4 linked regions of the Homo sapiens genome follow. The protein of the gene in region 2 purifies or fractionates together with the protein of the main gene of each other region. This does not show direct contact. Each region holds a gene or a part of one and is shown on either strand. Other genes may lie near its edges. The genes, in order: MRPS9, ZNF480, DDI2 and SMARCAD1.

The links.
Region 1: the proteins of ZNF480 (region 2) and MRPS9 purify together in Homo sapiens (co-immunoprecipitation; one large-scale study listed by IntAct). This does not show direct contact.
Region 3: the proteins of ZNF480 (region 2) and DDI2 purify together in Homo sapiens (co-immunoprecipitation; one large-scale study listed by IntAct). This does not show direct contact.
Region 4: the proteins of ZNF480 (region 2) and SMARCAD1 purify together in Homo sapiens (co-immunoprecipitation; one large-scale study listed by IntAct). This does not show direct contact.

What each region holds. Positions count from the first base shown.
Region 1 is NC_000002.12:105,095,207-105,103,611, reverse strand, and holds the end of MRPS9 (small ribosomal subunit protein uS9m), read right to left. Parts: intron 6,561-8,405; exon of another isoform or gene 6,458-6,560; coding exon 6,288-6,457; exon of another isoform or gene 6,214-6,287; intron 5,414-6,213; exon of another isoform or gene 5,350-5,413; intron 4,365-5,349; exon of another isoform or gene 4,312-4,364; intron 3,943-4,311; coding exon 3,851-3,942; 3' UTR 3,652-3,850; downstream 1-3,651.
Region 2 is NC_000019.10:52,321,195-52,328,834, forward strand, and holds the end of ZNF480 (zinc finger protein 480), read left to right. Parts: intron 1-384; coding exon 385-1,664; 3' UTR 1,665-4,728; downstream 4,729-7,640.
Region 3 is NC_000001.11:15,617,261-15,625,773, forward strand, and holds the start of DDI2 (protein DDI1 homolog 2), read left to right. Parts: upstream 1-197; 5' UTR 198-410; coding exon 411-548; intron 549-8,513. UniProt on the Homo sapiens protein: Aspartic protease that mediates the cleavage of NFE2L1/NRF1 at 'Leu-104', thereby promoting release of NFE2L1/NRF1 from the endoplasmic reticulum membrane.
Region 4 is NC_000004.12:94,208,242-94,216,754, reverse strand, and holds part of SMARCAD1 (SWI/SNF-related matrix-associated actin-dependent regulator of chromatin subfamily A containing DEAD/H box 1), read right to left. Parts: exon of another isoform or gene 8,513-8,513; intron 8,410-8,512; 5' UTR 8,361-8,409; coding exon 8,171-8,360; intron 3,721-8,170; exon of another isoform or gene 3,603-3,720; intron 3,018-3,602; exon of another isoform or gene 2,985-3,017; intron 1-2,984. UniProt on the Homo sapiens protein: DNA helicase that possesses intrinsic ATP-dependent nucleosome-remodeling activity and is both required for DNA repair and heterochromatin organization.

The sequences.
Region 1 (8,405 bases), on a different chromosome or scaffold from region 2:
AGAAAATGACCCCAATTTGACTCAAAGAAATTGAGACTCAAGGGGTACAGTGGCCTGCGAGGTTACAAGCCAGTATTTCTTCCAGACCTCACGGGGAAAGGCACCTGTAACATTCGCCTCTCCTGGAGGCCGCTTCTTGGTCATCACTGACGTCCCTGACCGCTGTGCCTGGCTTGCTGTCTTCCTATCACCGCTCACCACCCCCTTTGCTGGCTCTTCCCTCCTTCCTACTTTAAACTTGATGGCTGTTTCTCCACTTGAGCCTTGGCCTTCTCCCTGCCCAATCCTCCGTGCTGATCCAGCCCACGTTTCAAATTCCCCTTCCACGCAGCAGCCTCCCAAATCTGTCAGCAGGCTGACCCGTCGCCTGAGTCACAGTCCAATTATTTCAAGCATCTCATATGAGGTGGCCCCGAACACCTGAAACCCGAGCCGACCCCTCTGGTGTCTCCTCCTCCTCCCATCAACTTTTCTTCCTGTCTTCCTGGCTCTTTGCATTCCCAGCAGCCTGTGGATCTCATACCGAATACCCGCCCCCAGCTCTCCTGCAGCCAATCAGCTATCGCACTTGGTCCAGGTGAGAGTGGCAACGTTTCTCACACCTACTTCCTTTCTGTTCCCTGCACTGGGTCCCATCCCCTCCATGTACAATAGCTGCCTGGCAGGTCTCTTCCTTCTAGCAACTCCCTGCTCCTGCAGTCCCTCCGTGACCTTCCTGATGGGGAGATCCTCAAGACTTTTCCCATGAGCTCGGGGTTCCTGAGGCCCAGAAGAAGGTGAGAGTTAAGGCTCCGATTTTGTTGTTATATTATGCACTATGACTCTACTTAATATATATATACATATATTTTAAAGGTTGCTAAAATATAGTTTAAAAACACAGTTCTAATTTCAACCCTCATCTGTTCTCTCAAAGGAGAAAAAAAGGCTGATTCCCCTTTGGCAGTGCAGGAACATCACCATGAATTTCAGACCCTCCACAAATCCACCTCAGCCTCCTTCCCAGCTGGTTTCCGCAGGGACCTCGTCCCTCCCCAGCAATGCCCTGGCCCGCCTGGCTTCACTCCCTGCACATTTCCTGAACTTTCCTTCCTCCTTTCTCGCCATTTTCTCCATCTGTACTCCCACCCTCTCCTTTCATGGCCTCTTTTTTCCCCACCACCTCCTCCTCAGAGTGCTACTGTCCTCAGGGCCCCCTTCCTCAGCTCTCCTCCTGGCACTGTACGAGCAGCACTCCAGGTCTCCCGTTAGACTTGAGGACTTTGTCTCCTCCACGATACCAACAGTAGCTGATGCAGGGCCAGATGGCATATACTTCAGGCAGCTCTGCACTGCCCCAGGACACCAGGTATGGCAAGAGCTCAGCAAGCGGGCGATCCGTGCCGGCAGGGCTGCCCGCCATCCCATCTCAGCACACCCACGCCACGTGGGGTAACCACTTGTCACTTCTCTCTTGTCAAAATGGTAAAAAGTATACTCCAACAGATACAGGCTAAATCAACACCACCGACCAAAACCTGCCACAGACAATTTCACTAGAGAATGACCGCCACACAGAAAAAACCCCAGAAAGTATTTTCTACAGTTTCATCTGAAATGAAAAGGGCACTGGGTACCGCAGGGTACTGGGTACTCACTCTCACTTGTTCATCACCATGTTATTTTATTTTACCTCATAAAGGATTTGATGTGTATATACATGTCTCAGAACTTATTCAAGATTATTTTAAAAAGACACTTATGAAGAAATCAGTGGCATACAACTCTTTATATAAAGGATAATTGAGCATTGAGGGTCTAATTCTTGAAGCAATATTTTTACTTAAAATAACTGCATTGAAATGGATTTTTTTTTTTTTTTTTTGAGACAGGATCTGACTGTTACCCAGGCTGGAGTGCAGTGGCACAATCTCGACTTACTGCAGCCTCTGCCTCCTGGGTTCCAGCGATTCTCCCACCTCAGCCTCCCGAGTAGCTGGCACTATTGGCGCATGCCACCACACCCGGCTAATTTTTGTATTTTTTGGTAGAGATGGGGTTTCACCATGTTGGCCAGGCTGGTCTCAAACTCCTGGCCTCAAGTGATCCACCTGCCTCAGCCTCCCAAAGTGCTGGGATTACAGGCGTGAGCCACCACACCTGGCTTAAAATGGGTTTTAAAGTACCCCTGTTACCAACTGCCCCTTTCCTCCCTCAAAAACCTACTGCACAATTGCATTAGAGTTAAAATGCCAAAGTTTCTTCATTTTAAGGTACTTTAGAAATCCTAGAGCAAAACTCAATTGAACGCTTAGCTATGACTGAAGAGTCTCACTCCTGGCCAAACACCTATGTGTGATCTTTCATGCCAAACCATGGTCAATCATAAAGACTGCCTGGTGGGCCTCACGGGGGCAAGCTACACTCCCCACACCTGACTTGTGCACAGCCAGTGCATGACAGGTCCTGGGGGCCACAGTCAAGGACTCAGCCCACCTCCCCGCAGCCCGTGCTCTTCCAGAGCTATGTGCACTCCTGGCTGGGTGCCTTCATTCAGAGGGATCTGTTCCTTTCATGCAAGTCCTCCCTCAGGCTCCTCAGCTGAGACTTCCTGGGGAAGGGAAGCTTGAAGCCACTTTTCTCCATATCTGTGCTGATCCAAAATGGAATCCACAATTGTTTCAATAAAGAAACTGTGGCATATATAAACACAATGGAATATTATTCAACCTTGAAAAAGGAGATCCTGCCATTTGCCACAACGTGGATGAACCTAGAGGATACTATGAAGTAAGCCAGGAACAGAAAGATAAGTAGTGCAAGATCTCACTTAGCTGTGGGGTCTTAAAAGTCAAATGTATAGAAGCACAGAGTAGAATGTAATCACTGGGGGTAGGGGGTGGAGGAACGTGAGATGCAGGTCAAAAGGTACGAAGCTGCAGTTACATAGGATGAGTAAGTCTAGAGACCTAACGTACAACATGAGGACAACAGTGAATCATACTGTATTGTATGCTGGAAATGAGAAGAGACCTTAGATGCTCTTTCCACACACCCACACCTGGGAAACTATATGAGAGCTACGCTGATTTGCTTGACTGCAGTAATCACTTCACTCTGTAAATGTATATCAAAACATCCTGATGCATACCTTAAAAATACACAATAAAAAGATTTTTAAATACCCCCAAAACAAAACTGATCCAAAATAGGGGGCAGGGGTGCCTTCTTTGCCGCAGCCTTGCTCGTATTCCTGCAGCGAGTGAGCACAGACAGGCTTGACTGTGCCTTTCACTTGGCTGTTGTGTATACCAGCACCTCCCACACCTGGCAGCTCAGCTCCCTGGCTCTGCTGAGCTCCTGACCGACTCAAGTTACTTCATTCTTCTGAGCAAGCACTCTCACTTCTCATTTTGAAAAATACGTGGTGACAATTGCCAAGTGGGGAAGCAACAGAATCAGGGGAAATGAGTCTAGCTCTAGCATTGAAAGTACCAACAGTATGGCTCTGGTTGGTTGCTTAATCTGGGGGGCTAAGCCTTCTTGTCTGCAAAATGAGGTAACTTGACTATATTTTGCTGAATATTCCTTTCAGGTCTAATATGCCAGATTCTATGAATTATGCTTCTTAAAACTATATTCTGAAAAAGTTAAAAAAATAAAGCGGCAGAATGAAACTAACATTCTTTATTTTCCTTTTATTTTTTAAAGGTCACCTTTACAAAGTAGCATTTAAAAATAAATCCATCTCACAGCTCAAAGAAATTTCTGACAGTACTGCCCTCATGCTGGTCAGCCATTATTTACTGTGTGTCTGCCACATGTCGGCACATATATATAGCTCTTCCTCTCCTTTCCTGGGAGCAAACCCTTAGCGTTTCTTCCACGTAAACTTTCTGCGGGCTCCCTCTTGGCCTGGCTTCTTCCGTTCCCTCACACGTGGATCAGTAGTAAGTAGTCCAGCTGCAGCATAAAAAGAGAAGCCTTTAGGAACCATTAATATGCATGCTGCCCAGAAGAAAAGCAGGTTCATAAATTTATAGGTACTGTTGTCTGAGAAAAAAAACTAGAGGAAAGCAACCAGACCAGTAATAATTTACCAGCCCAGTATCAACCTCATGATGGCAGTTTGCTTCCACTCTTTCAGGATATTTTTCCAACCTCTGAGACAAACACAAGTTACATTATTTAAACCTGCTTCCCTTAAATTATAAGAATCATGGCTCCCTTTTGGTTTTTAAGCTTGCTCAACCTAAGTGAGATAAAGCTCCTCTTGTGTGGGCGGTCACTATTCACTGTAAGGGAACTTAACCTGCACACTTACTATTGCAGAGGACAGAGTTTTAATGGAGACAAGAGGCAGAGAAGAAAAACTTACTGTAAAGGTGAAGTATGAGAAAGTACTTAGATACCATCTATTAACAGTTTACATGAATATGCATATACACACAAATATGACTTGTCAAACATTTAAAAAAGGAAACTTTCATTATTTTAATTTATGCCATAATAATATTCCCTGTTTTTTTGTTTTAGAATCTAAAAAATAAGTTTTAGAGTTGTATTCTCAGCACAGGCAGTTTCTTCTAGAAGAATAAAGTCAGTTTAAACGGGAAACTTTCATTCTCCCAATCATCAGGAGTGATTATGTTTCTAGGCAACTGCTGGGGTTACTCTTAGCTATGGCCCATAAGGAAGAGCCCCAGCAGTGGCTGGAGCTATAGTAAGTTAGTAAAGACCATAGATTCCAAGAATACCACTGATGGGAAAGCTCTTACATTGCTTTTATAAATATGTAAATGGACCATACTTTTTCCTTGTCTTTTTCACTCTTCCAACGTTAGCACTCCTCCTACTGTATACAAGGCTTGGGTATTTTATTAAGGACCATTTAATGTACATAGAGCAAAGGAAAACCTTGTTTATGATATACCCATAACATTTACACTTGCTTGTACTTAAAGGACATGCATGGAATAAAACAGCAGTATTTGACAAAATACAGAAAAGACCTAAGTTCTAGCTTCAACTGTAAGTAAGAATGCTTTATTACTTTCAGATATGCACAGTAGCTCAAACTCATCAAATTGTTAAGATTCTAGCAAATTACTTCAATGACTAGATATGAATCCCATATGATGACAAATTGCTTATAAGCAAATGGATTTTTAAGAGCCTTAAGCAATTAAGTAGCCTAAGCCATAGGTAGTGTTTTTATTGAACCTCAGCGGCTTGTACTAGAAGGTCTGGTGCACAGAGACCAACCTACTTGCCCAGAGGAGGAGCTTATAGACTTAGGTGCTAAGTGACTTGCCCACGACCATGCAGCCGCCAATAGCACACATGGTGCTTTCCTCTTCTCATCAACAGTGCGAAGATGGTCTTCAGCTCAAACTTCCCCAATTTATTCCAACTTCTAAAGCAGTAGTCTAAGGTAAGAATCAACTGCCCATCCTTTTTCACATTACACAGGGACTCTTGTATTCATGCCCAGGTAACAGGGTTACACAGAGTAGGGTAAAAGAAAATTCAAACACCACAATGGGAAAAAATGGAAACCTCCAATAACTTACAAAAACAAAATACCCAAAGAACTTTATCACTAACCAAATAATTATTACAAATTTCTATGACAGGCCAGGTGTGGTAGCTCATGCTACGTAATGTCAGTGCTTTGGGAGGCCAAGGCAGGATTGTTTGAGGCCAGGAGTTCGAGAACAGCCTGGGCAACATAGCAAAATGCAGTCTCTACAAAATATACAAAAATTATCCAGGTTTGGGAGTGTATGTCATAGTCCTAACTACCTGGGAGGCCGAGGCAGGAGGATTGCTCGAGCCCAGAAGTTTAAGGCTGCAGCTAGCTATGATAATACCACTGCACTCCAGCCTGGCTGACAGAGAGAGACTGTTTAAAAAACAAAAACAAAAAACCCACACATTTCTATGATAAAACAAAAACAAGCAATTTGTCTCTTAAATATAACTAAGCTAAGCACTTTGTTAAGCTGGATAAAAGGTTATGCATTAAGGCCAAAATTAACTTTTCCCTGACCTTGGAACTGAACATTTTAGCAGGGCTCAAATAATCAGTGTGGGGAGTTCTCCCCTTTTTCTAATTCAAGCTCACCTTGTAGAAATCAAATCTGAGAAATACTGTTATGGTTCTGTAGCAAGAAAGAAGACAGCGAAGTGAAATATTACATATGTAACTATATATTTTCTTACGAACTTCAGGCACTAGGACAAGAAGCAGATGAACATGTATAGCCAGTATTGGGCCACCATGCCCGTCCCACCTAGACTCATACCTTGTCTCATCCACTCGACCTCGTCCTCGGTGACAAAGCTGCACAAGGCTTTTGCCATTGCCAGTCGTATTGCTCCAGCCTGCGCTGACCTCCCGCCCCCTGAGACTGTGCAGGTCACGTCGTGCTTTCCCAGCCGGTCAACAAAGTGGAAAGGGAACATCAGCTGTTCTCTAAAGCACAGCACAAGTAAATGTGGTTACGTTTACTATAAAGATACATAATTATGTAAACAACTGAAATTCTGAATATTCATAAAAACAATATTCTGCATGCCACTGTTATACTTTTCATACTTCTCAATCAATCCATTTTACCAAGATATAGAAACACTAACATTTCTGACATTTTGAATGATTTGCTGAGAGATTAAGATTTATTTCTTTTGCTTGGGTATAGCAACACACTCTTACTGTTTGCTGATCCCCTTTATCTCAGAAGATCTTTTCAAAGCTTGAAAATAATCTCGTAAAGAAGTCTTACAGTTGGGGAACTCCATTAATCAACTGAATTTAATGTCTCTGGATTGAATGATCAGATATAAAATCAATAGGCCTTTCCAAACAATTATCACATGTCATTTGGATTCACTAAATAAAGTCTACTATAAGTGTATCTGTATAATGTATAATGCTCATCTTGATATGGTTAGTTTTTAAAGTTTCTAAAACTATTTTCGACCTTGCACTTCCCTGACACCAAACACCTATTCCCAATATTCTTAAAGTTCTCTAAATCATAGGGTCCTGCTACCTTCCTGGGGCCAGGTGACATTCTACACAACCCCTGTCAGGCCTGCTCTTTCAGGGTCGGTCAGGGCCTACAAGATCCTGGGGCAGGCACCACAGACAAAACACGGCCCTGGACTTTCTCCTGCTCAACTGAACAAGTATTTGTTGAATATCATTTTCACGCCAGGTAAGATGTTCACCATTACCTCTGTCAAGCACTTTGATTTTGCTATTTTGCCTTAATATCTTGCTACACTTTTATGCAGAAAAGCTCACTTATATTGCGTTTGCTTTCTTTGATGCTGTAGCTTCTAGACCCAAAATCAAGTTTATATAACACAGTTAAGCTGAGAGACAGGTATGGACAGGACATTCAAGTGCTATTCTTCATACCACACTAGTAAAATAATCACAAGCAGATGGGCAAAAGATGACTTTCAAAAGCCATAGCAAATCGGAATTTATAACAATACGATGTAGGGATGACATAACTCCTACAACAACAAAAAACTCATAAATCTATACTGTCTTTTTGAACAAATGCTTCCAAGAAACCAAATGAAAAGTAGCCATAAGTTATAAAAACAGTATTATAAGTAGTATCTATTAATATACTATGATAACTAAAGAAAATTTAAGCTGAGCACCTAAAGTACAAGCTACTCAGGAGGCTGAGGTGGGAGGACTGCTTGAGCCCAGCAGCTTGAGTCCAGTCTGGGTCCAGAAGTTTGAGTCCAGCCTGGGTGACATAAAGAGACCTTGTCTCTTAAAAAAAAAAAGTAAATATAAAAGAAAATTTAGGCTGGGCGCAGTGGCTCATGCCTGTAATCCCAGCACTTTGGGAGGCCGAGGCGGGCAGATCACCTGAGGTCGGGAGTTTGAGACCAGTCTGACCAACATGGAGAAACGCCGTCTCTACTAAAAATACAAAACTAGCCAGGCATGGTGGTGCATGCCTGTAATCCCAGCTACTCAGGAGGCTGAGGCAGGAGAATTGCTTGAACCCAGGAGGCGGAGGTTGTGGTGAGCCAAGATTGCACCACTGTACTCCAGCCTGGGCAACAAGAGCGAAACTCCATCTCAAAAAAAAAAAAAAAAGAAAAAAAAAATGTACAGACTGAAAATCTAATTCCACTATTGCATTTACCTCGACCATCTGGCTCCATGACTCAGTTATATATCCAGTAATTACATTATGAAATCTATTTTTCTAGATTTTAATTGAAGTCTCTTTTTATTTATATAAGCATTTGTTAAAGAATCATAAAATTTTAAAAATTAAGCCAGGAAAGTGTTTAAGCTCCCAAACAAATGGCTGTCCAGAAGCCTCCCTTGTAACTTCACTTACGTGGCTAACCCACTTCACTGTGTGTTAGGTGATGACAGAATT
Region 2 (7,640 bases):
GGAACACTCACTCCTTTTCTGGGGATGTGCCTTTCCTAGCTTTGTGCATGTACTGTTATTATGTATACTGCTTCTCTTGAGTGTCTTATTTTCCCTAGAGACTTGTCCCTTCTTTTTCTCAGAAGGTTTCAATTCCTGTTCTATCTCTCTACTCATAATCCCTCTCAAACTCACCTGTAATCCTCCTGACTCCTACAGATTTCCCAGAACTCCAGTGCATCACCTTACCCTTTTCTATTTTCAGCACAACCAGCGTGATGTACAAAGTGTGCTGATATTTCTTCCAATGTCTGAGTCAGATGAGGCAGATTCTAGTATTTTCATCAGACTCTAAACATGCCAGAATTATGGGGTCTGAATTTTACTTTTTTCTTGCTTTCCTAGGGAGCAGCTATGCATTGGGAAGCAATGCAGAAGACAAACCAATTAAAAAACAACTTGGAGTATCCTTTCACTTACATCTGTCTGAACTGGAGCTATTTCCAGATGAAAGGGTAATAAATGGATGTAATCAAGTTGAAAACTTTATCAACCACAGTTCCTCTGTTTCCTGTCTTCAAGAAATGTCTTCCAGTGTCAAAACCCCCATTTTTAATAGGAATGATTTTGATGATTCTTCATTTCTCCCACAAGAACAGAAAGTACACCTTAGAGAAAAACCTTATGAATGTAATGAGCATAGCAAAGTCTTTAGAGTATCTTCCAGCCTTACTAAACATCAAGTAATCCATACTGTAGAGAAACCTTACAAATGTAATTCATGCGGCAAGGTCTTTAGTCGCAATTCACACCTTGCAGAACATTGTAGAATTCATACTGGAGAGAAACCTTACAAATGTAATGTCTGTGGCAAGGTTTTTAGTTACAATTCAAACTTTGCACGACATCAAAGAATTCATACCAGAGAGAAGCCGTATGAATGTAATGAATGTGGTAAAGTCTTCAGTAATAATTCTTACCTTGCACGACATCAAAGAATTCATGCTGAAGAGAAACCTTACAAATGTAATGAATGTGGTAAAGGCTTCAGTCATAAGTCATCTCTAGCAAATCATTGGAGAATTTATACTGGAGAGAAGCCTTACAAATGTGATGAATGTGGCAAGGCCTTCTATAGGATTGCGCTCCTTGTACGACATCAGAAAATTCATACTGGAGAGAAACCTTACAAATGTAATGAATGTGGAAAGGTCTTTATTCAAAATTCGCACCTAGCACAACATTGGAGAATTCATACAGGAGAGAAACCTTACAAATGTAATGAATGTGGAAAAGTATTTAATCAACTTTCAAATCTTGCACGACATCGAAGAATTCATACTGGAGAGAAGCCTTACAAATGTAATGAATGTGGTAAAGCATTTAGTGAGTATTCAGGCCTTTCAGCCCATCTTGTAATCCACACTGGAGAGAAGCCTTACAAATGTAGTGAATGTGGCAAGGCATTCAGACACAAGTTATCACTAACCAATCATCAGAGAATCCATACTGGAGAAAGACCTTACAAATGTAATGAATGTGGCAAGGTCTTCAATCGAATTGCACACCTTGCACGACATCGGAAAATTCATACTGGAGAGAAACCTTACAAATGTAATGAGTGTGGCAAGGCCTTTAGTCGCATTTCATACCTAGCACAACATTGGACAATTCATATGGGATAGAAACTACAAATGCAACAAATGCGTCAAAGAATTTAGTGTGCACTCAAGCCTTACTACCCATCTTTTATTCCATACTGCAAAGAAATTTTGCAAATGTAAAGAATATGACAAGGTCTTCAAACACAAGTTTTTCTAATAACTCATTAGAGAATTTATACTGGAGAGACTTCACAATTATAATAAATGTGTGGAAAAGTCTTCAAAAAAATTTCACACCTTGCAAAAGGAGATCTAAAAAACACAATCAGAAATGACAAAGGGGACATTACCACCAACCCCACAGAAATACGAAAAACCCTCAAAGATTACTATAAACACCTGTATGCACACAAACTAGAAAACCTAGAAAAAATTAATAAATTCCTTGAAAGATATAACCCCCCAAGATTGAACCAAGAAGAAATTGCATCCCTGAACAGACCAATAATGAGTTCCAAAATTTAATCACTAATTAAAAATCTATCAAACAAAACTCTGGACCAGACAGATTTATAGTTGAAGCCTACGAGATGTATAAAGAAAAGCTGTTACCAATCTTACTGAAACTGTTCAAAAACATGGATGCAGAGGGACTCCTCCCTATCTGATTCTATGAGGCCAGCATCATTCTAATACCAAAACCTGACAGGCACAATGAAAAAAGAAAACTTCAGGCTGGTACTCCTGACGAATATAGGTGCCAAAATCCTCAGCAAAATACTAGTAAACCAAATCCATCTGCACATCAAAAAGCTAATCCAACATTATCAAGCAGGCTTTAGTGTTGGGCTGCAAGGTTGGTTCAGTATACACAAATCAATAAATGTGATTTATCACATACACAGAACTAAAAACAAAAACCACATGACCATGATCATCTCTTTAGATGCAGAAAGGTTTTTAATAAAATTCAACATCCCTTCATTTTAAAAACCCTCAACAAATTACACATTGAGGGAACATACTTCAATAAGAACCATCTATGCTGGACTCACAGCCAAATTAATACTGAACAAGCAAAAGCTGGAAGCATTCCCCTTGAGAACTGGAAAATGACAGGGATGACCACTCTCACCACTCCGATTCAACATAGTACTGGAAGTCCTAAGCTTAGTGATCAGGCAAGATAAAGATATGAAAGGCATATATAAATAGGAAGAGGGGAAGTCAGTTTCTCTTGCAGAAGATATAATTCTGTATTTAGAAAACCTGTTGTCTCTGCCCAAAGGCTCCTAGATCTGATAAACAACTTCAAAAAAGTTTCAGGATACAAAATCTGTGTACAAAAATTAGTTGCATTTCTATACACCAGTAATGTCCAAGCTATGAACCAAATCAAGAATGGAATCCCATTCACAGTAGCCACAAAAAGTATAAAATACCTAGGAATACAGCCAACCAGGTAAGTGAAAGATTTCTACAATGAGAATTACAAAGCAGTGCACAAAGAAATCAGAAACAATAAAAATTGAAAAATATCTCATGCTCATGGATAGGAAGAATCAGTATTGTTAAAATACTGCCCAAAGCAATTTACAGAGCCAATGCTATTTCTATCAAACTACCAATGGCATTTTTCACAGAATCAGAAGAAAACATTCTGAAATTTATTTGGAACCAGAAAAGCCCAACCTAAATAGCAAAAGCAATCCTAAGCAAAAAGAGCAATGTTTGAGGTATCACACTACCCAACTTTAAACCATACTACAAGGCTACAGCAACTAAAACAGCATGGTACTGGTATAAAAAAAGACACATAGATCAATGGAATAGGTAAGAGAACCCAGAAATAAAGGCATATACCTACAACCATGTGATCCTCAACAAAACTGACAAGCAATGAAGTAAGAACTTCATTCAATAAGTGGTGCTGGCATAACTGGCTAGCCATATGCAGGATATTGAAACTGGACCCCTATCCTTCACGATATACAAAAATCAACTCAAGATGGATTAAAGACTTAAATATAAAACCTAAAAGTATTAAATTCCTAGAAGAAAACCCAGGAAATGCCATTCTGGACATAAGTGCTGGAAAAGACTTAATGATGAACACCCCAAAGCAATTGCAACAAAAACAAAAATTGACAAGTGGGACCTAATTAAACTAAATAACTTCTGCACAGCAAAAGAAGCTATTTGCAGACTACAGAATGGGAGAAAATGTTTACAAACTGCATCTGACAAAGATCTAATCCAGAATCTATAAAGAACTCAAACAAATCAACAATGAGAAAAACAACCCCATTAAAAACTGGGCAAAGGCCATGAATAGACCTTTCTCAAAAGAATACATACATGTGGCAATAAGCATATGAAAAAAATGGTTAATATCGCTAATCATTAAGGAAATGCAATCAAAGCCACAATGAGATACCATCTCAGACCTGTCTGAATGGGTATTATCAGAATGGGTATTATTAAAAAATCAAAACATAGATGCTAGTGAGGCTGCAGAGAAAAGCAAATACTTATACACTGCTGGTGGGAATGTAAATTAATTCAGCCATTGTGGAAAGCACTGCAGCGATTTCTCAAAGACATAAAAGAACATAGCATTCAACCCAGCATCCCATTACTGGGTGTATACCTAAAGGAATATAATCATTCCACCATAAAGACAAACACTTGTATGTTCATTGCAGCACTATTCTCAATAGCAAAGATGTGGAATCAACGTAAATGCCCATCAGCAGTAGACCAGATAAAGAAAATTTGGTACATATACACCATGGAATACTATGCAGCCATAAAAAAGAACAAGACTGTGTCCTTTACAGCAACATAGATGGAGCTGAGGCTCTTATCCTAAGTGAATTAATGCAGGAACAGAAAATGAAATATCCCATGTTCTCACTTATAAGTGGGAGCTAAACATTGATTACACATGGACTCAAAGAAGGGAACAGTAGACACGGGCTTATGGGTGGAGGTTGGGAAGAGGATGAAGATTGAATAACTGCCTGTTGGGTACTATGCTGATTACCTGGGGACAAAATTAACTGTACACCAAACTCCTGCAACATGCAGTTGACCCATGTACACATACTCCTTGAACCTAAAATAAAACATGAAAAAAAGCAAATTTCACACCTTGTAAAACATCAAGGAATTTATATTGCAAAGAAACCTTACAAATGTATGTAGCAAAGCATTTAGTGTGCCTTCAAGTCTTAATATTCATCAGGTAATCTGTAATGCAGAGAAACCTTACAGTTGTAATGGATATGGGGCTGGGCATAGTGGCTCACTCCTGTAATCCCAGCACATTGGGAGACCAAGGTAGGTGGATCACCTGAGGTCAGGAGCTCAAGACCAGCCTGGCCACCATGGTGAAAACCTGTCTCTACTAAAAATACAAAAATCAGTTGGGCATGGTGGCATGCACCTGTAATCCCAGCTACTCAGGAGGCTGAGGCAGGAGAATCACTTGAACCTGGGAGGCAGAGGCTGCAGTGAGTAGAGATGAAGCCACTGCACTCCAATCTGGGCGACAGAGTGAGACTCTGTCTCAAAAAACAAACAAAAAAGATGTGGCAAGGTCTTTACTCAGAATTCAAACCTTGCAAATCATCACAGAATCCATGCTGGAGAGCAACCTTACAAATGCAACATGCGTGGTAAGGTCTTTAATCAGAATTCACACCTTCCACAGCATCAGATAATTCATTCACGAGAGTCCTTATAGAGTATGGAAAACTCTTCATTATGAGTTCTTATATTAATCAGCGCCAGAGTGTCGTACTAGAGAGAAATCATATAAATGTATGTGACACAGGCTTTATCCAGCCCCACCAAGTCACTGGACGTCAACACATACATCTTTGAGGAAACCATAGGCTGGGCGCAGTGGCTCACACTTGTAATCCCAGCACTTTGGGAGGCCAAGGTGGGCGGATCACTTGAGGTCAGGAGTTCAAGACCAACCTGGCCAACATGGTGAAACCCCATCTCTACTAAAAACACAAAAATTAGCTGGGCATGGTGGAATGCACCTGCAATCCTAGCTACTGGGGAGGCTGAGGCAGGATAATCACTTGAACCCAGGAGGTGGAAGTTGCAGTGAGCTGAGATTGGGCCATTGCACTCCAGCCTGGGAAACAGAGTGGGACTCTGTCTCGGGAAAAAACAAAACAAAACCATAAAGATGGATTGTGGATTGTGGATGCAAAGGGTATTAATCAAGGACCATAACTATTGAACATGAGAGCACTGAGCATTTACAGAAGAAATAACTCAGTCTCTAGTACTTCCGTATTAATATATGACATAGCATGTTGCAGAAAAATTACAAGCCAAAAGATACCAAGCCTCATGATGCAAGGGTATGTGGAAATTGCGATTTTTATTCAGGTTATTAAAATATTTAATTCCTTGGGAGTTTTGGAAAGGCTACTTTACTCTTTATGACTTTCAGCCTAAACTTAAAACTCTCATTATGTGCTTTTCCTACAGGCCTTTCACTGTGGTCTCTGGGAAAGAATCAACAGCATGACAGGGCTGATTTTATTAGCTGGGGAGCATTTCTATCCAGTTTCCTGGAAGAAGGACATTGCCTTTTCAGGTTAAATATTGTTTGATTTAGACAGCATGGAGGTGAGCAGAGAATAACAAAACTATGTATCAGTCATCCTACTTACTGTGTTCAGCAAACCTTTTTCCTGACAGGCACAGTGCTATAAACCTGTACAGCAGGTTACACTACTGAATACTGTAGGCAATTGTAGTAAAATGGAAAGTATTTCTGTGTCTAAACATAGAAAAGTTACCATAAGAATACCATATGAGGCCGAGCGTGGTGGCTAATGCCTATAATCCCAGCACTTTTGGAGGCTGAGGTGGGCAGATCACCTGAGGTTGGGAGTTCAAGACCAGCCTGACCAACGTGGAGAAACCCTGTCTCTGCTAAAAGTACAAAATTAGCCAGGCATGGTGGTGCCTGCCTGTAATCCCAGCTACTCGGGAGGCTGAGGCAGGAGAATTGCTTGAACCTGGGAGGTGGAGGCTGTGGTGAGCCAAGATCACCCCACATTAAATACCATATAAAAGAAACAAAGTGCACCTATATAGGGCACTTACCATGAGTGGAGCTTCCAGAACTGGAAGTTACTCTGGGTGAGACAGTGAGGAGTAGTGAGTGAATGTAGAGGCCTAGGACACACTCCACACTACTGTAGGCTTTAGAAACACTGTACACAGCTGGGCACGGTGGCTCACGCCTGTAATCCCAACTCTTTGGGAGGCCGAGATGGCTGGATCACAAGGTCAGGAGTTTGAGACCAGCCTGACCAACATGGTGAAACCTTGTGAACACTAAGATTACAAAAAAATTAGCCGGGTGTGGCGGCGCATGCCTGTTATCTCAGATATTCAGGAGGCTGAGGTGAGAGAATCACTTGAATCCAGAAGGCGGAGGTTGCAGTGAGCCAAGATCATGACATTGCACTCCAGCCTGGGTGACCGAGCAAGACTCCATCTCAAAAAAAAGAAAAGAAAAAAAAAAACAAAACACTGTACACTTAGGCTATACTAAATTTATTTTTTAAAAATAAAGTAATTGTGCTGTGATGTTACCATGGCTGCAGTGTCACTAGGCATTAGGGATTTTTCAGCTCCATTGTAATCTTATGGTACCACCATTGTATATGTGGTCAGTAGTTGACCAAAACATCATTATGTGATGCATGACTACTTATTTTCACTGATGTCCTTTGCCATTTTAAAGTGATGGAGGTCTTTGTACCATAATATGTTAGGCTAAGTAATGGGTTTCTGAAACATGTTAAGAGACAAAATACTGTAAGACTGAAGTTAAATTATTACTGATTACATATCATATAATGGATTAATAATGAAGGAATATTTAATTTAGGAATAATGTAATTATTGAAATTGACTGGGCTGGGGGCAGTGGCTCACACCTGTAATCCCAGTACTTTGGGAGGCCGAGGCAGGCAGATTATGAGGTCAGGAGTTCAAGACCAGCCTGACCAACAT
Region 3 (8,513 bases), on a different chromosome or scaffold from region 2:
TCCTCTTCCACGCCCCCTTCCCACTCCTCCCCCTCCTATCCTCTCCTGGCTTCCTCCTCCTCTTCCCGGCCCCGCCCCCCGCTGCGTTGCGAAGGCGGGGAAGGCGAGGCGGGCTTTACGGCAGCCGCGTTGCGGCGGGGCGGGGCGCCGGGCGGCCGGCGCGCTTGGCGGCAGCCGTGGGAGGCAGGCCGGCAGGCAGACGGACTCGCAGGCGTGTGGCGGCGGCCGTGCTTGCTAGTGAGGGCGGGAGGGAGTGACTCACTGAGCGTGTGTGAGGGAGGGAGCGAGCGAGCGAACGAGCAGCCGGCGCCGTCCTCCCGCAGCACCAGCCAGGCCACGCCGCCGCCTCTTCCCCTGCGCCCCGCGCCCAGGCCGGGCCGAGCCGAGCCGAGCCGGGTCGGGCCCGGGCCATGCTGCTCACCGTGTACTGTGTGCGGAGGGACCTCTCCGAGGTGACCTTTTCCCTCCAGGTCGACGCCGACTTCGAGCTGCACAACTTCCGCGCGCTGTGCGAGCTCGAGTCTGGCATCCCCGCAGCCGAGAGCCAGGTACGCCGGGCAGCGAGCCGGGCCTGCCCCGGAGCTAAGCCCTCCCCGCCTCGGGGCCTCACTCCCTCCCTTTGCTACTGGTGAAGAATTGGGGGCTGGGGGGAGCAAGGATAGCCATTCTCAGGTCACCCCCGCATCCGGAAAGGAGCTGGGGAGCTGGCATCAGTAGCTGCCCTCACACACTCCGAGCATGGGGTGGGGTACGAGGAGAGGGAGCGGAGAACCTGACCGCAGACGCACCCACTGCAGCGTGAGGGGCGCGTGGACTGTTGAGCAGCGCTAACCCTCCCCACCTTTGGCTCTTTGGCCCTTCCCTGTTTCTAATCCCGAGTGTAGGATATCGTTGTGGACCTCAGAAGCAGCCCTGGGTTTGCTAGGATTCATACATCCTGCAAACCAGAAATACCAGTTTGGATCACTGTGGTAGATAGATGTTCCTCTGCTTTTTTTTTTTTTTTTTTCTGGAGAGGGTTTCTGCTTAAATATACGCAGTTTACCTTTAAATGCACAGATTTGCACTTCCGGTGAAAGAAAAAGTTTAAGACTTGCACTACCTCATTTTGGGGTCTTTGGAAATGCTCTTTACCCACCACATGCGTTTCTGGTTAAATTCTTTTGAAAAACAGTACCTATTGGTTCAACTCAAGCTGTTTGTTTGTTTCGGTTCTACCCTGGTAGTAAGCCAGAAGGCCCTTTTTCTTTCAGGTCACAGTTCAGAGTTTGGGTCAGTTCAAAGCTCAATGCTTTAAAAGGATATTTGCTTGGAAACGGCCTAGTATCAGTGCTGTTTGGTGGTTTCATTTCCCTACTCAGCTTGCTGGAAAGAAGTTCAGCCTCTCATATTTTAACTAAGCAAAGTAATTCTCAAAATGCTTTGGGGCTGCCCCTAGTCTTTATCAAACAGAATCGGTGACACTAACGCTGTAAACTTTACACTAAAACACTTAGATCATGACTTAATAAATTTAGCCTGGAGGAAATAGTCTAAACATTAAGAAAATTATAGAGGTCTCCCAAGTCTCCATCAAGTAAATCTTGATTTTCTACTGCAGTTATGAAATAGTTTACAAAACGATTGCCCAACTGCAGCTTGTTCTGCTGTCTTATGGTAAACACGTGTCAATACTTTGTTCAGAAGTATGATTCCTTTACACAATGTGAACTTTAGAACCTTGGCATAAAGCTGTTCAGAAAGAATTTAAAAAGTTAATCCACAAAAGCTCAGGAACCAGTTCTGTCAGTGAATGCCTCATGTGGAGAACTAGGAAAGGACTGTTTAAATAGAGAAAATAAACTCTTCAATTTTTTTTCTTTTTTTGTTTTTGTTTTTGAGACGGAGTCTTGCTCTGTCGCCCATGCTGGAGTGCAGTGGTGCGTTCTCGACTCACTGCAACCCCAGTCTCCCGGGTTCAAGCGATTCTCCTGCCTCAGCCTCCTGAGTAACTGGGACTACGGGCGCGCGCCACCACGCCTGGCTAATTTTTGTAATTTTTTTTTAGTAGAGACGGGGTTTCACCATGTTGACCAGGCTGATTTCAAACTCCTGACCTCTAGTGATCTGCCCGCCTCGGCCTCCCAAAATGCTGCGATTACAGGTGTGAGCCACCGTTCCCGGACAACTCTTCAATTTTTGATAGTGGCTTTTTCTTTTCTTTTCTTTTCTTTTTTTTTTTTCGAGACGGAGTCTCTGTCGCCTAGGCTGGAGTGCAGTGGCGCGATCTCGGCTTACTGCAAGCTCCACCTCCCGGGTTCGTGCCATTCTCCTGCCTCAGCCTCCCGAGTAGCTGGGACTACAGGCGCCCACCACCGCGCCCGACTCATTTTTTGTATTTTTAGTAGAGAAGGGGTTTCACCATGTTAGCCAGGATGGTCTCGATCTCCTGACCTCGTGGTCTGCCCGCCTCGGCCTTCCAAAGTGCTGTGAGCCACCGCACCCGGCCCGATAGTGGCTTTTTCAATTGTTTTTTCCTCTAGCTGTTATATTACCCTGGTTATGATCACCGGCTGGTAGGGAAAATAAGAAATTAAAATGTAAATTGATTTTGTTGTTAGGGCTTGGGAAAAGACAGAGGTTGAGGTTGTTTCCATTCCTGCACTTTTTGTGATGGCTGAAACAAGAAATTTAAGTCAAAGGGATACCTGACACCCCCTTTAATTGACTTAAATTTCTTGTTACAGCCATCATAAAAGACGATTTATTGTGTGGTCAGCCAGACATTGCCCTCTGCCAGTTGGTAAAGTTAGGAATACCTTAGTAATTGAACATAGGCTAACTCCAAATTATTTCTTGTTCATTATGTCAATGTTTCGGCATTTACTTCCTTCCCAAGCCAAATTAGCATATAGAAACTTGGGCTCCAACTGGTGTTAAGCCTGTATTAGATAGCCATAAACAGCTCCTGTTTTTCCAGTCTGTTCTGTTGGCTCCATTGTAACCTGACAACACAGTATCTATTTTAAGGTGTCTGGTGGTCGGTTGTCTTTCACTTGCTTGCTTGCCCATCAGGCAGGAACAGGATCCACCCTAGACACTTGAGTCATTTCCTTTCATCAAATCATAATAGTAAACATCACTATAGTTTTTACCCATAAATATATCATGTTTACTTACTTGAGTGTCCCCCCCCATTACCTCCCAGGGTTCTCTCATATTACTCATCTTCCCTTCCTTTCCTAGACTGTTTAACTCCTCCTCTTGTTTACATTCTCCATTCCCATTCCTTCACCTCTCATTTCTGATTCCATTTCTTCAAGGAAATATATATATTTTTATGTTCTGGCTATTTTTTCCTGCCACTATGTGTCCACACCACTGGTGTCCAAACTTTCATTCATGTATCCCTATCAGTAAAATGTTTCAGATTATGCTTCTGTTATGTATATAATACATTATATACATGAACTGATACGTTGTATACATTATATATGGCCACATGTGCATATAATACACATAACGTGCATTATATGCATATATAATATGTTATCTGTAAAGTAACATTGTACACACACAAAATGGAGCTTAAGGAAGGACGAACTAAAATAAATGGAAATGAAAATTCTAATATTTTCAGTTTCTTCCTCCACCGTTAAAGAATTGTCTTGCATGGCTGCCCTACATTGGTGATCAATGGTTTAGAATTCAGTCTTTCACCTGAGTGTCAATTGCACATAAGCATATAGTTGGAAAAGGTGTTAATTTTTAACAGCTCTAGTCTGATGATAGTAGTTACAATGCAGTGATAACAAATTTAGAACAAGCCATCTCTGCTTGTACATGTGATTAAAGCTGGGCATGTTCTGTCTCTTAATAGAAGTGTGGGCTTGGAAGCCAGTCATGGCTCTGTTTGATGCTTTGATGCAGACTTGCCTGGGTGAACTTCAAACAGTTATCAGAACTTAGCTTCACTTTAAATTAATGTCTTCATATTTTTGAGACATGATAATTTACCTCTGTAGGTGGCATATGGAAAAAGTAGGCACAACATACAAGGACCCTCAAATGAAAGGCAAATAATAGCAGTAATTGTATGATCTTGGAAATGCACACAGCATGATTTGTGGTTTGTAAACCACTATTTTATCTTCTGTGTGTTTGTTTTTTTGAGACAGGGTCTTGCTCTGTCACCTAGGCAGTAGTGCGCTCACAGGTCACTGTAGCCTCAACCTCCTGGGCTCAAGTGATCCTTCCACCTCAGCCTCCTAAGTAGCTGGGACTACAGGTGTATGCTACGACATATGACTAATTTTTTTGTTTTCTTTGGAGATGGGGGTTTCACTGTGTTGGCCACGCTGGTCTCAAACTCCTGACCTCGGATGATCTGCCTGCCTTGGCCTCCCAGAGTGCTGGGATTACAGGCGTGAGCCACCGCATCCGGCCCCAAATTGATAATTTTAAAGGCTACATAATATACCATCATATAGATGTGTTGTAATTTAGCAATTTCCCTTTTGTTGAGCATAATATTGGGGAAAATTGGAAGCAGTTGTAAGTAACATGCCATGAACATCCATATACTTAAGACTGTAGCCTCCATTTCTGTTTTCTCAGGATGAATTCTTAGATATGCAGTTGCCAGATCAAAAGCATAAAGTCTTTGAAAGGTTTTTAGTAAATTTAGATTATACAAGTCAAATTGGCTATTACATGGGGTAGTATATGTAGATAACTTGGTAGATATTGGGTATTTGATTAATGGTAATACTATTATGAAGCCATTCAGATGTAATTCCAAATGTTTTGTGGCCGGTTTATGGTCCTTATTTTATCTTTATTCTTTATATTTTAGAGATGGGATCTCGCTCTCGCCCAGGCTGGAATGCAGTGTTGCAATCACAGCTCACTGTATCCTCAACATGTTGGGGTCAAGGGATCCTCCCAAGTAGCTGCGACTTTTTTTTTTTTTTTTTGAGACGAGGTCTTGCCAGTGCTAGGCTTGAACTCCTAACCTCAAGCAGTTCTCCTGCCTCTGCCTCCCAGAGTGTTGGGATTACATGTGTGAGCCACTGCACCTGGCCTACTAGTTTATGTTCTGTAATGCTAGAAATTTATTGTTAAGCTTTTTGTTAATAGAAGGCTCTCATTCAGAGACCAGAAAACACCTGACCTCATGCTTAAAAGTTCTGAAGTTTTATTAATTAGTCTATTGTTAAATGTTGATTAAGATTATAATTCAGTCTCTGGGGTGCCTCCTCTGGAGTAAGTACCAGCAGTTGTGCCAGTTTTGCTGATTAAGACTCATAGCTGTATACATTTTCTTGTTGTATGTTCTTATAACTGGCAAAACTTGAATTTTGGGCTTTGTAGCTGTTGAGTTGGGTAACATGAATGGTGGAAGGATCAAGAATGCCGGCAGCGGATCCCCTTTTGTTTTTATTGGTAGAGATTTGAAGCCATGTCTAATAGATACTGAATGTTTGGTTGGAAGATCACATGGATTTATTTTGGGACTTTTGCTGCAAAATAATTGTCTTTCTTGGACTCTTAAGCCTATTTAAACAAAAAGAAATCAGTTCTTTGTGGCAATTACAATTTTAGCTAAGCTTTAGTTGATCTCATTTATGTCCTTAGATTAAAATGGAGCACAGCTGCTGCTTCGTCAGTGTGAGGAACGTGTGCGCCTCACCCAGGTTCTTCAGTCTAGTGTTTCCAGGAAATTGGCGCTGAAGCAACATTTCATATTTCATAGACATGCTCAATGTGGTGGTTATCTAGATTTTACATTTTTATTGTTAGATCATGCTGCCTTCCTTTAAAAAATGCTATTGTCTGCTGAGGAAATATTGTGGCAACTAAGCAGTGATGGAGTGAAGTATGGCATCTGTGAAGTGGGAGTCAGAGCGGGCAGTTGGTGGTGTTTCTTCATGTCCAGGGCATGGGGATGCGTTGAGCAGTGGACAGTATTTTGATCCTCTTAGTGGATAGAGTCTCTTAGTGGCAATGGATGGCTTAGTAGTACTTGTTAAAATCACCCAGCTAATTCACCAGGCCACTTTAGGGTTATGTTCGGGAAAGCTGTATATGATACTCCTGGAGTAATGGGCTTTGAAATTAGACAGTTCCAATTGCAGTTTTCTTCTTCTTTTTTTTTTTTTTTTTTTTTTAAGAGACAAGATCTTATTCTGTTGCCCAGGCTGGAGTGCAGTGGTACAATCATAACTCACTGCAACCTCGAACTCCTGGGCTCAGGTGATCCTCCAGCTTCAGTCTCCCAAATAGTTGAGACTACAGGCATATGCTACCATGCCTGGCTTATTATTATTATTATTATTATTATTTTAGAGATGGGGTCTTGCTGTATTGCCCAGGCTGGCTTTGCATTCCTGGCCTCAAATGATCTTCCTACCTCATCCTCCCAAAGTTTTGGAATTAAGGCGTGAGCCATGGCACCCAGCCTGCATAGGATCATTTTGATTCTCCTGAGTTTGCTTCCTCCTTGTAAATAAATAAATTTTCTCTTATAAATAGTTAGTGGCCGGGCGCAGTGACTCACGTCTGTAATCCCAGCACTTTAGGAGGCCAAGGCGGGCAGATCACAAGGTTAGGAGATCGAGACCATCCTGGCTAACATGGTGAAACCCCGTCTCTACAAAAAATACAAAAAAAAAATTAGCCGCTTGTGGGGGCAGGTGCCTGTAGTCCCAGCTACTCAGGAGGCTGAAGCAGGAGAACCTGGGAGGCGGAGCTTACAGTGAGCCGAGATCCCGCCACTGCACCCCAGCCTGGGCGAGAGCGAGACTCCGTCTCAAAATAAATAAATAAATAAATACCGTTAAAATGTGCCTCTGCTCCCAGGAGACTGTTCATGTATCTCTAAATATACTGATAGTTGAATTTCTGAAACTGGAAAATTAAAGAGTAGGTTGTTGACAGTGGCTTCACAGTGTTGATGCTATGCTGTAAGAGCCTGCCTACCTGCCATTTCTCTTGACATACCTCTTTTTTCTTGTTGCACACCTCAACCTGTGACGCTCATCACTTCTGGTTTATGTGTTTTTTCCAAGCAGTCTCACAAGTTATAATATGACTCTCAGTTGTTTTGCTGAAATTCTGTGTTGATGGTGATGTACTTTTACTGTGAAATTTGTGTTTAAATGAGGGTGTGTGAATGGGATGATGGGAGTGACAGTTGCAGTCTGTTGAAATGTGGTTCTTTTTTTGTTTGTTTTTGTTTTTTAAGAGACAGGGTCTTACTCTGTTGCCCCAGGCTGGAGTGCAGTGGTGCAACCGCAGCTCACTACAGCCTGGACCTCCTGGGCTCAAGCAATCCTCCTGCCTCAGACTCCTAAGTAGCTGAGACTACAGTCACATGCTACCATGGCTGGCTATTTAAAATTTTTTTTTTTTAGATATGCGGTCTCACTATGTTGCCCAGGCTGGTCTCAAACTCCAGGGCTTAACCCATTTGTGCTTAGCCTTCCAATGGAACGCTAAGCTTGTGGGAGTTATATCCTACTACTCAAGGTCATTGCCAAGGTATGATTTTTTCACAAAAGAAAATTTGCAACCTCTGGCCTAAATGGGTTAAGTGATGCTCACACCTCAGCCTCCCCAAGTGCTAGGATTATAGGCATGAGCCATCATACCAGATCTGAAATGTGTTTTAACTCAGCGAGTTGAGCATTAAGGACTTAATAGTATTTTTTTTCAAGTCATGCATAAAACTTGTATAATTGGGCCTACAAATTTGCTCATATTCAGAAGAATTTGATTTTGGTAGGAACTCATTTTCCTGTTCTGTTCCTCATGTCTATAAATTCTGAGAGCAGATATGGCATAATCACTTTTTTTCCAGTTTAAATGCTGTGTTTTCAGTTTTTATTTCAGGTAACCTTACTATGAAAGCTGTAAGGAAACATAGAATGATAATGTTAGCAGAGAGAACTGGAAGGGACAGCTGTAATGATGATCTAGCCCACCTGCTTGCTTGACACATGGGAAGGGTGAGGTCTGGACCTGCTGAGTGTCATGCCCCTCGCAGGGAGTTACTGGCAAGGATAGAACTCATGTTCCTCAGTTCGCATGTGGCCTGGTGAAAAATCATTAGGAGGAAAACCTTTCAAAGCCTGAGTTTGTTCTGAATGCCTTTCTGGAGTATGTAATAATGCAGGGCAGATTTTATGTTTTTTCATGATAAAATTATAGTGTACCTTTGTTCTTTCTATCTGCAACACATTATTTCATCTATTTGTGCTGTCAGGTTTTTTTCAGTTTGATTACACATCATAAAATATTTTTATTAGTAGTACATTCCTAATTCTTTTTTCCACTTGTATTTAGTTGTTATTTTCTTAGTTTCACTTTATTTTCCAGTCTCCCCCCTCCCACCACCCCACCAAGATGGAATCTTGCTTGCCCAGGCTAGGGTGCAGTGGTGCGATCTCAGCCCTGCAACCTTTGCCTCCCGGGTTTAAGCAATTCTCCTGCCACAGCCTCTGGAGTAGCTGGGATTACAGGCACGTGCCACG
Region 4 (8,513 bases), on a different chromosome or scaffold from region 2:
GATATATGCTACAACATGGATGGATCCTGGGGATGTTATGCTAAGTGATGATTCCACTTTAATGAGATACTTAGAATAGTCAAATTCATAAAAAGACAACGTAAACGGTAGTTGCCGGGGGCTGGGGGAATCAGAAATGAGGAGTAGTTGTTCAATGCATAAAGAGTTTCAGTTTCACAAGATGAAAAGAGTGCTGGAGAATAGTTGCATGACAATGTATATGTATTGAACTGAATGTACTGAACTGTACACTTAAAAATGGTTGAGATGGTAAATTTTCTTATGTGTATTTTATCATAATTTTTAAAATTAACAGACATACTAGAGGAAAATATGAATGAGTATATTTATAGTGTGGTAATGCGGAATGCAGAAGACTTAGAGGAAAGGATGAACAAGGTGACCACATAAAAATCTAAAATTTTTCTATGGCAAACAACAAAGGGGGTGCTATGGTCTGTTTGTGCCCCACTCCCCAAAACGGTATGTTGAAATCTTAACCATTATGGTAATGGTATTAGGAGGTGACATTTGCTGGAGGGAGGAAGGGGTATTAGGTGATGGGGGCAGAGCACTCATGAATGGGATTAGTGCCCTTATAAAAGAGGCCCAAGAGACCCCTCACTCATTCAGCCACATGGGGTTAAAAGATTGTGGTCTAGGAATAGGGCCCTGAGATACCTAATCTTGCAGCACCTTGATTTTGGACTTCCCAGCCTCCAGAATTGCCAAGAGTAGATTTCTATTGCTTATAAGCTACCCGGTTCATGGTAGTTACAGCAGTTCTAACAGACTAAGACACGTGGAATTTAAGATATACTTACAAATAATTTATCGGAGAGACATGTATTAGAAAAACAGAAAAGCATAAAGAAACACAAAAAATCCAAATGGCTAGTAAATTTATGAAAACATACTTAAACTAAAAAATAAAGAAAAAGCAACAATAACATACTTTTGCCTATTAGCTTATTAAAGATAATAAAGGTCTGCAATATTTTAGACAGGTATGAAAAAGCAGACATCAAAACCAAGATGTAGTCTGATACAAACTAGTGAAATTTGTGTGTAGGGTGAAGTGACAATGACTAAAATAATATTTCTATCCCCCTCCTCCCCCCCACCCCCCTTTTTGGGACAGAATCTCACTCTGTTGCCCAGGCTGGAATGTAGTGTAGTGATCACAGCTTACCATAACCTCAAACTCCTGGGCTCAATCAATTCTTCTGTCTCAACCTCCCAAGTGGCTAGGACTACAGGTGCACACCACCACACCTGACTAATTTTTTCATTTTTTGTAGAGACAGGGTCTCACTACATTGCCCAAGCTGGTCTTGAACTCCTGGTCTCAAGCAATCCTCCTGCCTCGGCCTCCCAAAGTGCTGCGACTCTACAGGCATGAGCCACTGTGCCCAGCCAAATACATGCACATTTAAAATGCACTTAAGATTCCTACTTACTTTTGAGTACTTATTGTACTTTCTGTTACAACAATTCAGCACTAACCCTTTAACTAAGTATTGCTTTTCAATTAACATTAACAGACATTAAGAAACCACAATGACTATCTACAGGTTTAACGATGGCTCACATTTTGGCCACAGACACCTACAAAAAGACTGAGTATTGCGCAATGGTCACGGAATTATGAAGCTAAAATGATACATTCAGTATCATCATTCAAAGGATAATAACCATTTTAATGTGGGCAAGGAATACAGAAAACTAAGCAAAGCCAGGAGAAGACTGTAAGACCCAAACAGTTGACTTTTTACTCAAGATCATACAATCTGTATGTGGCAGAGCAATACTCTCAGGAAATCTTTCTGACGACTGGTATAGTTTTAAAAATGTCTCTCACTTATCAACAAGTGCTACTTTCAATATGACAACCACCTTGAAAAGGCAACCACTCTAGAGGACTAAATCTATTTCAGCAAAAAAAAAAAAATTCATCAAACATATACTAAAACTTTCCTCCATTCCGCCAATGCCAAAATAATCTATGAACCCATCTATTTTTATCTCCTTCAATTATCCCCCCCAGGGAAAATATGTCTTTATTCTTTTGCACAGTTAAACAGTCCAACTGTTCTTCAGTTCTCATCACTTGATGCCTCTCTTCAGATACCTCCCTCCCTCAGTCCTTCCCTCTCCACTAGCTTCTTGTCCTTGGTTAACAAACGCTTGGCCAGGTGCGGTGGCTCATGCCTGTAATCCCAGCACTTTAGGAGGCCGAGGCGGGCAGATCTCAAGTCAGGAGATTGAGACCATCCTGGCTAATACGGTGAAACCGGGTCTCTACTAAAAATACAAAAAAAAAAAATTAGCCCGGCGTGGTGGCGGGCACCTGTAGTCCCAGCTACTCAGGAGGCTGAAGCAGAAGAATGGCATGAACCCGAGAGCAGAGATTGCAGTGAGTTGAGATTGCGCCACTGCACTCCAGCCTGGGTGACAGAGTGAAACTGTCTCAAAAAAAAAAAAAAAAACAAAAGAACGCTCAATTTTCAATAATCCTGAAACATATTTTCTTGACATTACTTCCCAATCAGGTTACCTATTTCTCTCTTTCCTTTCCTGAATGAATAATCTCTATCTCATCACCATTCTACTGAAACTGTTAAAGGTTAGTAGTTACTTTTAATTCCAAGGAAACTGGTCACTGATCAGTCCCCACTCAACTTGACTTCTCTACAGGATTTGTTACTAGACAACTAAATACCAAACTAGGTATTTAGGTATCCAGGACACTATCATTTTCTATGACTATTCTAGTCATCCTTCAAATTTTTCATTGGTTTTCCTGCCCATTGTCAAATGATGTTTTTTATTGTACACCCTGCTTAGGACATTGATGAGTCCCAAGTTCTAGGGTTTAGACCACTCTCTGAGCTCTAATATTCAACCATCTACTACCTTGGTACTAAAATAGGATGGGTAATGCAAACACAACATAATTTTTAGTATCTTTCTCCTAAACTCACCTCTTAATTCAGTCCATGGTGTCAATCCTCCAGCTGTCCAAGCAAGGAACATTTGAGTTATCTGTAAATCCTCCACATTCAACTGATCACCTAATATCATCAAATGCGTATCATTTACAACTCCCCTCAGTTGCCTCCTCTGTCATCTCTACAGTCATTTCCCTACATTGAGGCTTCAATGAATACAACAGCTTCACTAATAGCATTTCCATAATGAAATGCTCTATGATGTGTACCAAATAAGATCTACCGTCCCTGACACAGGATATAAAGGCCCCTCACAACCCAATGGTTTACACTTCTATCTTTTCAGTTTCATCTATATTGTCTAAAACCTCCTGTTCTATAATCTGCCCCCAACCCTCCACACACATATTAGACTCTTGGAGGCAACATATATTTTCAACTCTCTCATCATTTGTTCACCCAGTAAACAATGATTTCATTGTTTAGAGTCCACTCCAAAGGTCATATCTCTGTGACTTTTTGTGATCCTCCCCTGAAGAATGGATAATTCAATCATTTGTGAATTACAGATAGTGATTCTACTTTGCTTAGTATTTTGCCCTATTATATGGTTTTATCACACCATACTATTTTAACTATATATTTACATACCATTTTCTCCTGGTGCTCTTGGAGGATCAGGCTTCACTCATTTTTATTCTTTATTCATAAAATATAGTAGGATCTCTCTTCCCTTTCACCTGCCATTATTTCAATCCCTCCAAACTCACTGTACTCCCAAAAGTCAAAGAAAAAAAGGAGAAATAATGTGTAAATAACAATCATTGACAACTTTGGGCACCGAGAAGAGTAAAATAAATCAGGGGGCAGAGGTTAAGTGTATGCCCTCAAATCCAAAGGCTGGCTGGGATTTAGAGGGGCATTAGGGAGGATGTCCTGTACCAAAAGAAGCTTCAAGCAACCATGGCCAAAGAACACCTGATGGCTAAAGGGACTATTTTAAGGTCCTATTTTAAAATAAAGGTGTGGTGGCTCATGTCTGTAATCCCAGCACTTTGGGAGGCCAAGGCAGGCAGATAGCCTGAAGTCAGGAGTTTGAGACTAGCCTGGCTAACATGGTGAAACCCTGTCTCTACTAAAAATACAAAAATTAGCCGGCTGTGGTGGTGTGCACCTGTAGTCTCAGCTACTTGGGAGGCTGAGGCAGGAGAATTGCTTGAACCCAGGAGGCAGAGGTTGCAGTGAGCCGAGATTGTGCCACTGCACTCCAGCCTAGGTAACAGAGCAAGACTCCATCTCAAAAAAATAATAATAAATAAATATGTATAGGGCTGGGCGTGGTGGCTCATGCCTATAATCCTAGCACTTTCAGAGGCCAAGGCACGTGGATCACTTGACGTCAGGAGTTTGACACTAGCCTGGTCAACATAGCGAAATGCCGTCTCTACAGAAAATACAAAAATTAGCCGGGCATGGTGGCATGAGCCTGTAGTCGCAGCTCCTCGGGAGGCTGAGGTATGAGAATCACTTGAACCCAGGAGGTAGAGGTTGCAGTGAGCCAAGATTCTGCCACTGCACTCTAGCCTGGGCCACACAGTGAGATTGTCTAAAAACAAATAAATAATAAATAAATTTTAAAAAATGTATAAAGTACTAATAATGCCCACTCATCATGCAATAATATTTACTTCAATGCACTTATTGAGGGCCTACGACAAGCCAGTCGTTGCCCTGAACAATGGAGATAAATAGGTGAACACAACAGATAAGGTCCTGCTCTCATGAATCATATGTTCTAACAAGGGAGTCACAACTATATAATGTAATGTTAGCTAGTGATACACAACTACATAATGAAAGGTTAGCTAGTGATAAATACTATGAAGAAAAATAACAGTAAAGCTGGGGTAGGGTGGGCTGGGGTGGGTGGCTATTTCACAGGGTGATCAAGGAAGGTCTTCTTAAAAAGGTGACATTTTACTGAGATTTAATGAAACAAAGCATCTGAGTCATATGCAAATATCAGCAGGAAGAGTCTTCCAGGCAAAAAAGCAAATTGGAAGAAGCAAAGATGGGACCTTGCTTGAAAGATTCAAGAAACAATGTGGTGGTGGCACAGTAACTGAAGGAGGGTCATAGGAAATGAAGTCAACTCACTAGATAAAATAACAGGATTAGTCAAAAAGAGTGATTACAGGTAATTTTGACTACATACAATTTCTGTCCTGTAAGCTGACTTAGTTTGACCTGACACTTTACTGTAAATAAACTAACGCAGCATTATCCCACAATGGGAGTATGAAAAGTTACCACATGATAAAGAAGTAAGGTCAATAGTCACATCCTATTTATAATTCACCAATTTTCATCTCCAGTCCTGACCTTAAAATCTAACTTCAGTATCTTGTCCTCTCCAGAGATCCAACACTCAATTCTGAATCCCCACTTCCTCAGCAATCCCTAGACCCCAGGCTAAATTAGCACTTGGGGGCAGGACCTTTGATTTTTATTCTTATTTATTTATTTATTTTGACATGGAGTTTTGCTCTTGTTGCCCAGGCTGGAGTGCAATGGCACAATCTCGGCTCACTGCAACCTCCACCTCCAGGGTTCAAGTGATTCTCCTGCTTCAGCCTCCCGAGTAGCTGGGATTACAGGCATGTACCACCATGCCCAGCTAATTTTATATTTTTAGTAGAAACGGGGTTTCTCCATGTTGGTCAGGCTGGTCTTGAACTTCCAACCTCAGCTGATCAGCCCGCCTCAGCCTCCCAAAGTGCTGGGATTACAGGGGTGATCCACTGTGCCCAGCCAGACCTTCGATTCTTATTTGAATTCTTAAAGACATTTACCTTTTTTTTTTTTTTTTTTTTTGAGATACAGTCTCTGTCCCCCAGGCTGGAGTGCAGTGGTGTGATCTAGGCTCACTGCAACCTCTGCCTCCCAGGTTCAAGCAATTCTTGTGCCTCAGCCTCCTGAGCAGCAGGGATTACAGGCACGCTCCACCATGCCTGGCTAATTTTTGTATTTTTAGTAGAGACGGGGTTTCACTATGTTGGCCAGGCTGGTCTTGTGATCTCAGGTGATTTGCCCACCTTTGCATCCCAAAGTGCTGGGATTACAGGCTTCAGCCACCGCGCATAAAAATCTTACCATTCATCTTATCTCATTCCCATCAGGGATCTAAACCCTGCCCTTCATTACTTTGAAACCTCTCATATCTCTTTCTTCTCCATTTCTACCGCTATCATTAAGCTCAATTACAGGAGTTGCCTAAATGTTTTCTTTCCCTTCAATCCCTACCCTCAATCAGTGTGTACTAGTCACTACTGCTAAACTGACTTTTAAAACTTTCTTTCACCATTTTCCATTCACTCTGTAAGTTCTTCAATGGATATCTAATACTTACAATGTAAAATCTAAACTTCTCAGTTTTCAAGATTCTCCAAAATTCACAGTATCATTTAAAACAATCTTTTATTAAAGCAAAGTGCTCCATTCCTACAAGGATTAATTCTCAACATTCCTAGAACAAACTTAGTTTTCTTATTTCCCGAAGCCATCAAGGCTGATCATGTAATTCCTAAAGCAATCTCAGTTTTTAAGCAGAATTTATGTATGGAAAAAAGTCCCAATAAAGAGAAAATGAGTGTTATCATTAGAAAGAAATAAAAACAGAAAAATATCTTCTGATCACTAAAGGAAATTAAAGATTTCACATGACCAATACTGATAAATAACTAAAACATTCCACTGAAATCCAGTTTACAAACTGCTTTCACTTTCAGAGATGAAAAAAGTGTGGATCACAGATTTCAAATGACTTGTCTAATGTCCCACATTTAACAAAAATGAAGAAGCAGAAGCTTCTATGGACTCGAAATCCCATGTCTACACCTTGGCTTTCCTGAACTATCTAACTACAGAGGAAACAGACAAATATATTCATTGGAAAAGCATTAAAATACCTGGATGTCAAATATCTATTCAAAGAGTGAACACAGGGATTAAAATCCTGGTGCTTAAAATCCTTCAGTTGTTCCCTATAGCATTTAAATTCAAAACTACTTAGACAAAGCCTTTGTAAATCTGACTCCTAATCCAATCTACCAAATCATTCTGCCAATTTCCAATTACACCAAAGTATTTAAAAATGTTATTCTAATGATAACTTGCAGAGGATCTGCCATCATTATTACATTTAAGTAGAAGGGTGGCAAACAAAAAGATACCAAGGATAAACATGTGTGTTACCAATCTTTCAGGCTACATTAAGTTAAAAGCTGTTTACGAAACAGAGTTTTGCATAAAAAAAGATATTACTGAAATAAATATTAAAATATAACTTCCAACATTCCTTTCACCTTTCCTAAGAAACTAACTAATTAGTTTATGCTCAGGAATCATACTGCCAGGACTTGAGTTCAGGCTCTACCAAGTTCCTAATAACCTCTCTGAATCTCATTTCACATTAACCTCTATGTCAGTAATATCTACCTTGTAGGATTATTGTGCAAATTAAATGACAGAAGGTGAAGCACTTATCACTATTCCTATAATACAACAAGAGCTCAAATATATTCCTCTAATAGTTAACTGTTCAATGAACATAGATTCGAGTGGAAATCTTAATTTTTGGCTTATCCTCAAATACTTTTGTCTCTGACAATCTGCTGATGAGGTTAAAAATGTTCATTCACCATGAAGAATACCAATTACTCATTTGCATTCTGAGGACATCCAGGAAGTCAGGTGGATGCAAGAACTTGATGTGATCTGATCTTCCCTTGTGTACAGAGGTTGTCTTTAGGCACCTTGCTCAATGTCTAGCTCACAGTAGATGATCAATATTTTGAGGGAATACTGGAATGAATGAAAATGTCTGCCCAAATAGCCTCAAAGTTTATCATAGGACTGAATCACTGACATCGCTCTTCCAATAGCAACCGTTCTGACCTATGGATGCCCTAAATTCTAATTTCAACTTCCACCATGGGGCCATATTCGAAGAACTCATATAAAAGTGAGGCGACAATGGATGGATGCTCAGTTGAGGGTACATGGTGCTTATGGCAGTCCCAAAGCTGTATTTAAAAGGGCACACCGCAGGACAATGCATCAATATATATGACATCAAGAATAAAAATGAGAATCCCTTCTGCCTTTCATCTTTTAAAAACTGTCCTTGATGTTACATCAATTTTAACATTGTAACTCACCTGTTTTTTCAGTTATATCTGAATCAGGAGTGTTTGCCCTGCTAACTTCCCCTTCAGCATTCTCCTCTTCAGCACTAAGAGAAATTGGTGAAGAAGGGCCAGGCTGGGAAGGTTGAGGGGTTGCTTCGGGCGCTTCCTCAATCTTATTCCTTTTCTCAAAGCGAAAACGGTCCAGGTTGAAAAGATTCATATTGGTAGAAAGCACCACCTTGCAGGGATGGGGGCTTTAAATGAACTATCTGCAGGGGAAAAATAAAGAGAGGAAAAAAGGCCATGAAAACAATATACGATACAATGCCACAGCAGTTTATTCCCAAGGCAATAAAGGGCCCGCAAACATGCC